Linked DNA regions of Homo sapiens: region 1 is linked to region 2. Evidence: fine-mapped expression QTL. Tissue or cell type: whole blood. Region 2 holds a variant in brackets; the other region holds the start of a gene. All regions are shown on one strand. Distances are from middle to middle.

Evidence for each region. PIP is the estimated chance that this variant, and not a neighbour inherited with it, causes the effect.
Region 1: it holds the start of NDUFAF5, and the variant in region 2 is fine-mapped to the expression of NDUFAF5 in whole blood (TOPMed, PIP above 0.99).

Annotation. Positions count from the first base shown.
Region 1 is chr20:13,782,358-13,787,357 of GRCh38, reverse strand. NDUFAF5 (NADH:ubiquinone oxidoreductase complex assembly factor 5) reads right to left here and starts at 2,330. Exons shown (of 11, transcript NM_024120.5): 1 at 2,068-2,330; 2 at 6-46. The coding sequence starts at 2,289. It overlaps ESF1 (ESF1 nucleolar pre-rRNA processing protein), which reads left to right and starts at 2,439. Exons shown (of 14, transcript NM_001276380.2): 1 at 2,439-2,478; 2 at 4,175-4,854. The coding sequence starts at 4,218. RefSeq lists enhancers at 1,420-2,109, 2,105-2,394.
Region 2 is chr20:13,897,878-13,902,877 of GRCh38, reverse strand. All of the region lies in intron 5 of SEL1L2 (SEL1L2 adaptor subunit of SYVN1 ubiquitin ligase), which reads left to right. Among named protein-coding and RNA genes, the nearest start is that of SEL1L2, 90 kb to the left of the region's middle. The variant A/G (reference allele first, on the strand shown) is at 2,877.

The DNA of each region.
Region 1 (5,000 bases), 120 kb after region 2:
CTTACCTGGGTATGTCATATACACGGTCTGCGATCCGACTTCCAACCTGAAGGATTACACGAGGCGTAGGTTAACGGGGAAGTAACACTCTTTTTCCAGTATTCAACAATCCACAAGTTACTTATGTTTTAAAATAAGTACTTCCCTTTATCCCCTTTTCAATTTCACCACAGGAACTTTCTTCTCAAACCACCAGGAAACAAAATTGAGGCAAATTATTTCAGAAGTCAATTTCATGAAATCCAGACTAAATATTCTTAAAAATATACATATACACACACACACACACACATATATATATGTGGCCTTTACATTCCATGTGACATAAGATCACAAGGATGAAAAGCAAAAGGAACACAACAGGCACATTACTGTCCACGGATATTAGCATGAGGTACACAAAGTGAAAAATTAGTTAGTTGGGGTTTATTGTAGATGAGTATGTAAGTGGTCACTTAAGAAAAACTCTATTATTTGATGACTAACAAATTTTGTGGAACTCATAAATGAACAACTTTTCTGAGTGACATTCGCAAGTTAGAAAAAGCCAAATCTGAGGAAAGTGCACCTCCCCTGCTCCAATCCCATCCCAATTTAAGAGTCATAAGGTAAGCACCACCTTTTGCTGGCCTAGCTTCATCTGGTAGCAATAAAGACGTGGGAGTCTAGTATTCCCCACATTCCACTCATTCCCTCATAAACACCCCAGAGTTGCTCTTAGGACTTAAAAGTTCCAAACACAGATGTACCTGCTTTTTGAGAGAAGGGCAAGGGAGAAGGGAGCGTAGATGTTTTTCCCAGGAGTCCACCTTGTACGTCATTCCTAATATGAACACCCTATGTTTATTATAAAAAGAACTCTCATATACTTTATCTTATTTGTTCTAGTCTCACAAATTGGCGAGGCCTCAATCAAGTTGTAGTCCAGGTGCTTTCTTTGGAGGGAAAGGGCTATGAGCGCACATCTTCTAAGTACACGACATCAGCAGTGTAGTACGTGCACCATGCCTTACAAGTGAGACACAAAAAATTTATTGGTAGTAAACTTCCTATAATAGACATTACCAGCCTAAGACTTCCTGAGAAAGACACCCTGTCAATCATCTGATCAGACCTGTACTTGCACAGAGCTCTGCTCAAGCTATGAGTTCAATAACTGTTTGTTGCATTATACTTGACTCCAACTTTGTTCCACTCCTGAATAAAAATTTACTGAGGCCTGAACTTGAGAATGCGTGTCCTGAAAGTAGAAACCCTCAGTCTCTGGCTCACCTGGGCAGGGAGAAAGGTTTCTCAAACGAGCCAAGACAAATCAGAAATCTTAATTTGATCTTCCTAAAACATAAGTCAGATCACTCCACTGATTAAAACAAGAGCTTCACATTCCCCTAGAGCAGTGCTGACCAAAAATCATGAGAGCCACATATGTAATTTCAAATTTTCTAGTAGCCACATAAGAAAAAAAGTAAAAACGAGAGAAATTTTAATTGAAAAATTTAAATTTATATTTAATATATTTCATGTGACCCAATATATCAAAAATAATCACTGCAACATGTAATCAATATAAAAGCTCTTAATGAGCTATTTTACATCCTTTTTTCATACTAAGTCACTATACTCGTGTGTATTTTACAACACATCTCAATTGGACTAGTCACCTTTCAAGTGTTCAACAGCCACATGTGTGGCCGGCAGTTACCATACTGGCTGGACAGTGCAGATACAGAAGAAAACCCCAAGTCCCTATCCTGCAAGGCCCTGATGATTTGGGTCCTCCTAACCTTCTCTCCCACTCTCTCCCTCTCCGGAGCTTCACTGGAGGCCTCTATAAGGTCCTTTCAGCCTCAAGGACGTTGCCGAAATGAATGCATGAATGAATGAAAGCATGTTACAAATATCCGAGGCCAGGCCTTGCGTGATTACAGTAGAGGCCGAAAGAGGCAGGGCTGCTGGTCAAGGTCAGACGGCTAGGTGGGGTGAGCTCGGGGCCTAGCCGGAACTAGCGGAGAGGAAAACAAGCCTCCGCGTCGCCCGCCCCGCCGCCCCGCCGCCCCGCGGGCTCACCTCCTCCTTCAGGTAGTCAAATTTGGTCGGCTCGGGCTGCCGGGCTGCCCAGTTCTTCTGTTTCCTTTTCAAATCCCGGTCGAAAATATTCAGGGTTCTGGGCGAGGTGCTACCGCGGGGAGAGACACCAGAGGTGACTTCCCTACGGCCAAGATTCTCCGCTGGGACCCTCGCCGCCCAAGGTCGCCGACATAAGCGCCAGAGCCCTGCCGGCCGCAGCATCTCCAGCTGCGACCCCAATTGCCGGCGCTTTTTGTGCGCATGCGCCAGCGCGGCTTTTGTGTCTACTCCAAAGATCTTCTCGAGGGAACGTGCAAGTAGTTTGGCCTAGTTCGCTTGCCATTACGGCGGAGCGTCACGCGGAGGATTGTGGGTGTGAGCCCCACGTGAGGCTTGGTAGGACTGCGGACGGTGAGTGGGGATGGACTGGAGTTGAAGAGCTCGAGATGAAGGGCTTGAGGGCGTGTGTGTGTGTGGCGCGGGGAAAAAACTAGTCTCTAACAGGATCTCTTTCGGATCTGCGAGGGGTTTTGCCCCTTCCTCCTGAGCCTTTTTCGGTCTCATTCTTCAGTCTTCATCGATCCTTTTCAGGGTCGCTTCTCGAATCAGTCTGTTAGCTGCCCCCCTGCGGTACAGGAGGTGGAAAGGAGACCCTAGTTCAGGGGCCAGCCCTGTGTTCTCCGAATTAGAGAGCGGGCAGAAGGGGAGGGTGGGCTACGGGGATGCGGGCGCGTGTCGGGAGTGAGGTCCGGTCGCCTTCCCCTCTCTCGGATTATCTGACATATAATGAGTGCTTTCCTTCTAAACATTTACAATACATGCAGTACTTCTCCTGGTTGAGGTGGTACCTACCTCGTAAGATTGCTCAGAGAGTTAAGTGCTGTAATACATCGAAAAATGTGTAAATGCACCAGCGATAGCTTCCTTTTTTTTCCTAGTTAGTGTAATTAAAAGGACTTGATTTTTAAATAAGAAATATTGCCCTTTTAATCATTTTGGGGGGGGGTTGCTTAATAATCAACGACTTTTGGCTCTTTGCAAAATTCCCATCCAGAGATGCTAAACCATTGGAGACTTTTCACAAGGGAACAATATTAATTTATACACACATATGTATATGTTCTAGTATGTTTTGGGGGAATGAGCTCACTTGGGCCTTCATCACTGGTAGAATCAGATATTATAGAAAGAAGTGATATTTATTAACTGGTGTGAGACTTTACCTGGAGACTCAAATTTACTTTTTATTTTTAAACTTTTTATTACTTTTGAAGGATGATCGAATTTAAAAAGGAAACTTTCTTAGCTAAACCTGAGTTGATTTTGGTCTGTTTAGTTAGAATGCTAGTCTTACAGAACTAAAGGCTGTTTGTTGGCAGTAGCCGGAGATAAGGAGTAAGCAGAATGAGACCAGAATGTGAAGAAACAAATGAGGCCAACGGAGGCTAGGGAATCTTTCTTTCTTACTTTTTTTTGGTAGACAGGGTCTCACTCTGTTGCCCCAGCTGGTGTGCTGTAGTGCCGTTAGGCTCACTCTAGCCAAGACCTCCCGGGTGGAAGTGATCCTCTTGCCTTAGCCTCCAAAGTAGCTGGGACTACAGGCGCGCGCCACCATGCCGGGCTCATTTTTGTATTTCTTGTGGGGATTCACCATGTTACCCAGGCTGGTCCTGAACTCCTGGGCTCAAGTGATCCGCCCGCCTTGGCCTCCGAAAGTGCTGGTGAGCCACCGCACTCGGCCTAGGGAATCTTAACTACATTTGCCTTCAATTAGTAACACATACTGGTATACAAATAGAAATTCTAAGTGAGAGCAATGGATGAATAAACATTTGTTCCCCTCCATAAAGCCCTGGGATTCTGCTTTGTCTACCTTAAGTTTATTTCTCTAAATGATCTGTCATGGAAAGAGGATATTTTGGTATGTTTCTGCTTTTTTGCATGTGACCCAGAATACGTTGGAGAGATGAAATTAGACTTGTTACCTCTATTTTATGTACACTTAACTTAGAATATATTAACTTAGAATATATTGTGAATGTGTTTTAAAACATTTAATTATTGTACTAACCATTATTACCATTAAAACATTTGTTTTATTTTTCAGTATTTGTTTTCTTCAAGCATTTGGTCGAGATTAAGAATTAAAAATGTCATCCAAACAAGAAATAATGAGTGACCAGCGGTTTAGACGGGTTGCAAAGGACCCGAGATTTTGGGAAATGCCAGAAAAGGATCGAAAAGTCAAAATTGACAAGAGATTTCGAGCCATGTTTCATGACAAGAAGTTCAAGTTGAACTATGCCGTGGATAAAAGAGGGCGCCCCATTAGCCATAGCACTACAGAGGATTTGAAGCGTTTTTACGACCTTTCAGATTCTGATTCCAATCTCTCTGGTGAAGATAGCAAAGCATTGAGTCAAAAGAAAATAAAGAAGAAAAAAACCCAGACTAAAAAAGAAATCGATTCAAAAAATCTAGTTGAGAAAAAGAAAGAAACCAAGAAGGCTAATCACAAGGGTTCTGAAAATAAAACTGATTTAGATAATTCTATAGGAATTAAAAAAATGAAAACCTCATGTAAATTTAAGATAGATTCAAACATAAGTCCGAAGAAGGATAGCAAAGAATTTACACAAAAAAATAAGAAAGAGAAAAAAAACATTGTTCAACATACTACAGACTCTTCTCTCGAAGAAAAACAAAGGACATTAGACTCAGGCACCTCTGAAATTGTGAAATCTCCCAGAATCGAGTGTTCTAAGACAAGAAGAGAAATGCAATCAGGTAGGTTGGAAAAAATTAGAGATTCTTGGGTGTTACATTATTTATTTTTATACTGATCTTTCAAAAATGTAAACACATTAATAAGTATTTTCATAGTATTATGGAATGGTCAAATGCTTATCTGGAAATACAAAGCTATAAAAGAA
Region 2 (5,000 bases):
CCAAAGTACTGGGATTACAGGCGTGAGCCACCGCGCCTGGCCGGAATTTTACTTTTCATACACTTGCATTGATTAATTTGACAAAAATATTTTAAAAGTTAAATTTAGATATTAACTCTCTCCTCTCAAAATAATTGTTTTTAAAGAAAAAACCAGACGTTTTTTCTTCTACTAAAAAGGGACCAGCAATTTGGAAAATGTCAAATTCCAGGTGTGGAGAATAAATGTACAAGATGATCTTAAAACATCTTATCATACCTGATAGGAAGGATGGTGTCAGGAAATTAGAGTCATGACCAAGGGATGGAGGATCCAACTCAAATAGGCTCCCACCGGCTAAAGCTGGAATGATCAAGCACCAAAATGAATAATGATCGCAATGGACTGAAACATCTAAAATCATTTAAATCCATTTGTTCATAATGATACCTAGAAACAACACTTATTCATCACTTCAGGGGACATTAAAGAACCAACTCACATTATTTTGAAAACTGATCAAGGGAGTCAAGTATTTATCTTGCCTATTCTGCACAATAGAGTATGGGTGACATTTTTCTTTATAGAATTATTTCAGCTAATAAATGAAGAAGGAATGACAGAATTATAATGTCTTCATTGCCACCCCTAATCAATCAGTGGATCCGAGATAGGAGGTGGGACTCGATTCCAGAGGTAGAGCTTGGACACTGGACCAAATTGAGTACTAGCTAAAGCAGGGATGAGGTGGAAGCAGCTTTCCATAAGACACACCCACTAGTGTGCCATGTCAGTTTACCATTGCCATGGCAACACCCTGGAGTTACTGCCCTTTTCCGTGGCAATGAGCTGACAACCCAGAAATTACTACCCTTTTTCTGGAAATTTCTTCATAAACCACCCCTTAATCTATATGTAATTAAAAGTAAGTATGAAGGCCAGGGGCAGTGGCTCATGGCTGTAATTCCAGCACTTTGGAAGGCTGAGGCGGGTGGATTGCTTGAGGTCAGGAGTTTGAGACCAGCCTGGCCAACATGGTGAAACCCCGTCTCTACTAAAAATACAAAAAATTAGCCGGGCGTGGTGGCGGGCGCCTATAATCCCAGCTACTCCGGAGGCTGAGGCAGGAGAATGGCGGGAACCTGGGAGGCAGAGCTTGCAGTGAGCTGAGATCGTGCCAATGCACTCCAGCCTGGGCGACAGAGTGAGACTCCGTCTCAAAAAAAAAAAAGAAAAAAATTTGCAAAAAAAATTTAAAAAAAAGATTCCACAAAGAAAAATCTCAATTTATTTGAGAAATGGTAGCTTTGACTAGAAGCAATAAAACTACAAAATAATGACAAAAAGATAGCTTAGTCACATTTTTTATAAAATTACAAGTCTCCTAATTAATAGCAAAATAGAAATTGAAATAACATATTAAGCACTCAATCATGATGATAATACTACATAGTAAAAGTTACAGAATAGGGCTAATGCCAGACGCAGAAGAAAATATACAGCTTTACGTGTTTTAATAAACAAGAAATGGCCAGGCACAGTGGCTCACGCCTGTAATCCCAGCACTTTGGGAGGCTGAGGCGGGCAGATCACGAGGTCAGGAAATCGAGACCATCCTGGCTAACACGGTGAAACCCCGTCTCTACTAAAAATACAAAAAATTAGCCGGGCATGGGGGCAGGCGCCTGTAGTCCCAGCTACTCGGGAGGCTGAGGCAGGAGAATGGCATGAACCCGGGAGGCGGAGCTTGCAGTGAGCCGAGATCGCGCCACTGCACTCCAGCCTGGAGGACAGAGCAAGACTCCGTCTCAAAAAAAAAAAAAGAAAGAAAGAAAGAAAAAGAAAAAGAAAAGGAAAAAAAATTAACTCTAGCAAAATAAAGGTAGGACAAAAGGATTAGTAAACAAAAACTGAAATCAATATAATGAATTCGAGAACAAAGTCATTTATTTCATAAATAAAAACGAGATGATTCTTTAGTTCTTTAAAATGCTCCCAATAATGGGGACAAAACTCTAGCTGCTACTCATATAATAGGTGCATTTGGTTGTTGCCAGGTGAGCCCCCAATGACCATAAACAAGGAGGATTTAACAAGGGGATTTTATTACTTGAAACAAGTAAGGAGGACACCGGAGGTAGTGCCCCAAAGCAGTGCCCCTACAAACAGGCGTGAAAACCGAGCATGTCTTGGGCTGGTCAGCTGAATCATTGCGTGTAGAGAGGGAGTCCTGGCCGCACAGGCACAGCGGCGGATTATGTTTCTACATATGTCGCCTGTATAGAAAATGGAGAATAAGCTCCTCCCTGGGCCGGGTTTTTAAGATTATAACAATAAGAGTTCGCCAAAGTTCATCTCCTACTCAGCCATCTCTGGATCCAACTGTTTTTTGTTTTTCTGGGGCCGAGCTTCTCCAGGAACTTTTTGAAACAACAAGAACTCAAGGTGCAACAGTTACAAGTGGGCACTTTTTCAGTGTGTACCAGAAAACCCAGGGCCCCTGAGTTACATGACCAGTCTATCACAATTTTTTAAAAATAACTAATGGATAACATTGCAAATTTAAAAATAAAACCACAGATTGAAAGAAATGTAAGCAATTATGAGACAGTGCTATATTCAACTTTATGTGAATACATTAAAATCTAGATGAAATAAAGACATTTTCCAGAAAATATAAATCAGTTCCTCCTGTAGGGTATTATAGGTCACACTCATATCAGTGTGGTAGGAGCCTTGACTAGACCTATAACTATGGAACAAACTGAAAATGTCAAAGATAAGCCTCTCCAAAGACACTACACTCAGATGGTTTTACTGGGAAATTCTATAAAATAAAACCATCAGAAATTTTTTTCTATTATGTAAATCATTTTTAAAAAAGAAAATCTTTAAAT[A/G]TCATTCCAAAATGCCTTAATAAGAATCCAGAAGAGTAAAACAGGCAGATTTCATTTATGAACACCAATATAAGTTTTCTAAATAAAATTTTAGCGAATTGAAAAGCATGAAATTTAATCAAGTAGGATTTTTAACCAGAAATATTAAGATAATTCAACATTAAGAATACATTTTTGTAGCTTAATCTCAATAAAATAGCACCCTATCACTTTCTACCTACTTATCCTGCTTCAGTTTTCTTCATGGTACTTGCTGTGGTTTGAGTGTTTGTGTCCTCTCCAAAATCCATGTTGAAACTTAATGCCCAATTTAACAATATTAATAGGTGAGGCCTTCAGGAGGTGATTAAGCCATGAGGGTGGCACCCCCTGTATAGGACTAGGTGCCCTTATAAAAAAAAGGGCTTGAGGGAGGAAGTTCGTTCCTTCTGCCCTTCCACCCTCTGCCAGGGAAGGACACAGGCTTTGACTTTCTTGTTGATTTCTGTTACCTCCAGTGCAGAGGACAGTGCCTGGCACCATCTGCTTAGTAAATGCTGGTTAAGTGAATTTTATTATTATGCTAAGAAGAAAAAATATAAATAATTATAATACATGCTGAAAATAGAGTGATAAAATTCAACATTTGTTTCTGATTCTAAAAGTTAGTAAACTGAGAGCATTTAATTGAAATTATTAGCAAAATGTAATATATAATAGCAAACCACAACAGACATCCATATTAAAATCAGAAACAAAAAAAAGAATACATGCCATGACCACAATTCATTACATTGTTCTGGAAGTTTTACCCAATAAAGTAAAAGGAAATAAGAGTTACATGAAGGAACTTACAAAATTATTATTTACAGATGATATGTGTCAATTTAGTATACTCAAGAGAATATTTAAAAAACAATGGGTTAGTGTCACATGGCATCTTTTTAAATATAAATAAATAAATTGTAAAAATAAAAAACAGGCTGCGCACAGTGGCTCATGCCTGTAATCCCAGCACTTTGGGAGGCTGAGGTGGGCATATCACCTGAAGTCAGGAGTTCAAGACCAGCTGGCCAACATGGTGAAACCCCATCTCTACTAAAAATACAAAAATTATCTGGGCATGGTGGCAGGCACCTGTAATCCCAGATACTCGGGAGGGTGAGGCAGGAGAATCTCTTGAACCCGGGAGGCGGAGGTTGCAGTGAGCCGAGATCGGGCCATTGTACTCCAGCCTGGGTGACAAGGGCGAGACTCTGTCTCAAAATAAATAACTAAAAATAAAAAAACAATGGGAAGCCATTAAAAGGTGCTAAACAGGGCCCAGGTGACATAAGTAGATTTGGCTCTACCCATAAATGAAGAATGGACAGGAGGAGAACAAGCCTGGATACTACTACAATTGTCCTGATGAGAATTGAGACTAGCTCACAATAGCAGGTGCTGGAAGAAATGAATTAGAGAGATATTGTAGAGGTGAAATTCACTGGAAGTTGATGGTAAATTGGTTACTTGGGGTAAGAGAGTAGAAGGTATCTCAGATACCTCCTGTGTGGGGTTATAAATACGAGAGTTCTGGGAAAGAGAGCCGGAGACTCACTATACAGAATGTAGACTCTTCTAATACTCCTGTTTTCAGCCTTGTTCTTCACCCATATTCTTTAATGTGTCTGTGTCTCAAAGTCTGAAGTTTCCTTGGTTTAATTTCTCCAGGGAATAAGCCTCCCATCTCCAGTGGGGTCAGGGGATGGGCTATCTGCCTGGCTGCACAGGACAGGGGTTAGGACTGCTCTTTTTATAGACTTCTAATCAATACCCATGTGTCAGCTCCACCTACTGGGTGGAAACTAGACTCTTTGAGAGTCTGCTTTATGTTCTTTTGGTTATATACCCAGAAGTAGAATTGCTGGATCATATGATAATTATATTTTTTAATTTTTTAAGGAAACTGCATACTGTTTTCCATAGCAGCTGCACCATTTCACATTCCCACTAACAGTGCACAGGTTCCTATTTCTCCCCATTCTCACCAGCGGTTTTTATTTTCTGGGTTTTTTTGGGGTGTGTGTGTGTGTGTGTGTTTATAGTGGCCATCTTAACAGGTATGAAGTAATATCTTATTGTGGGGTTTTTTTTTGTTTTGTT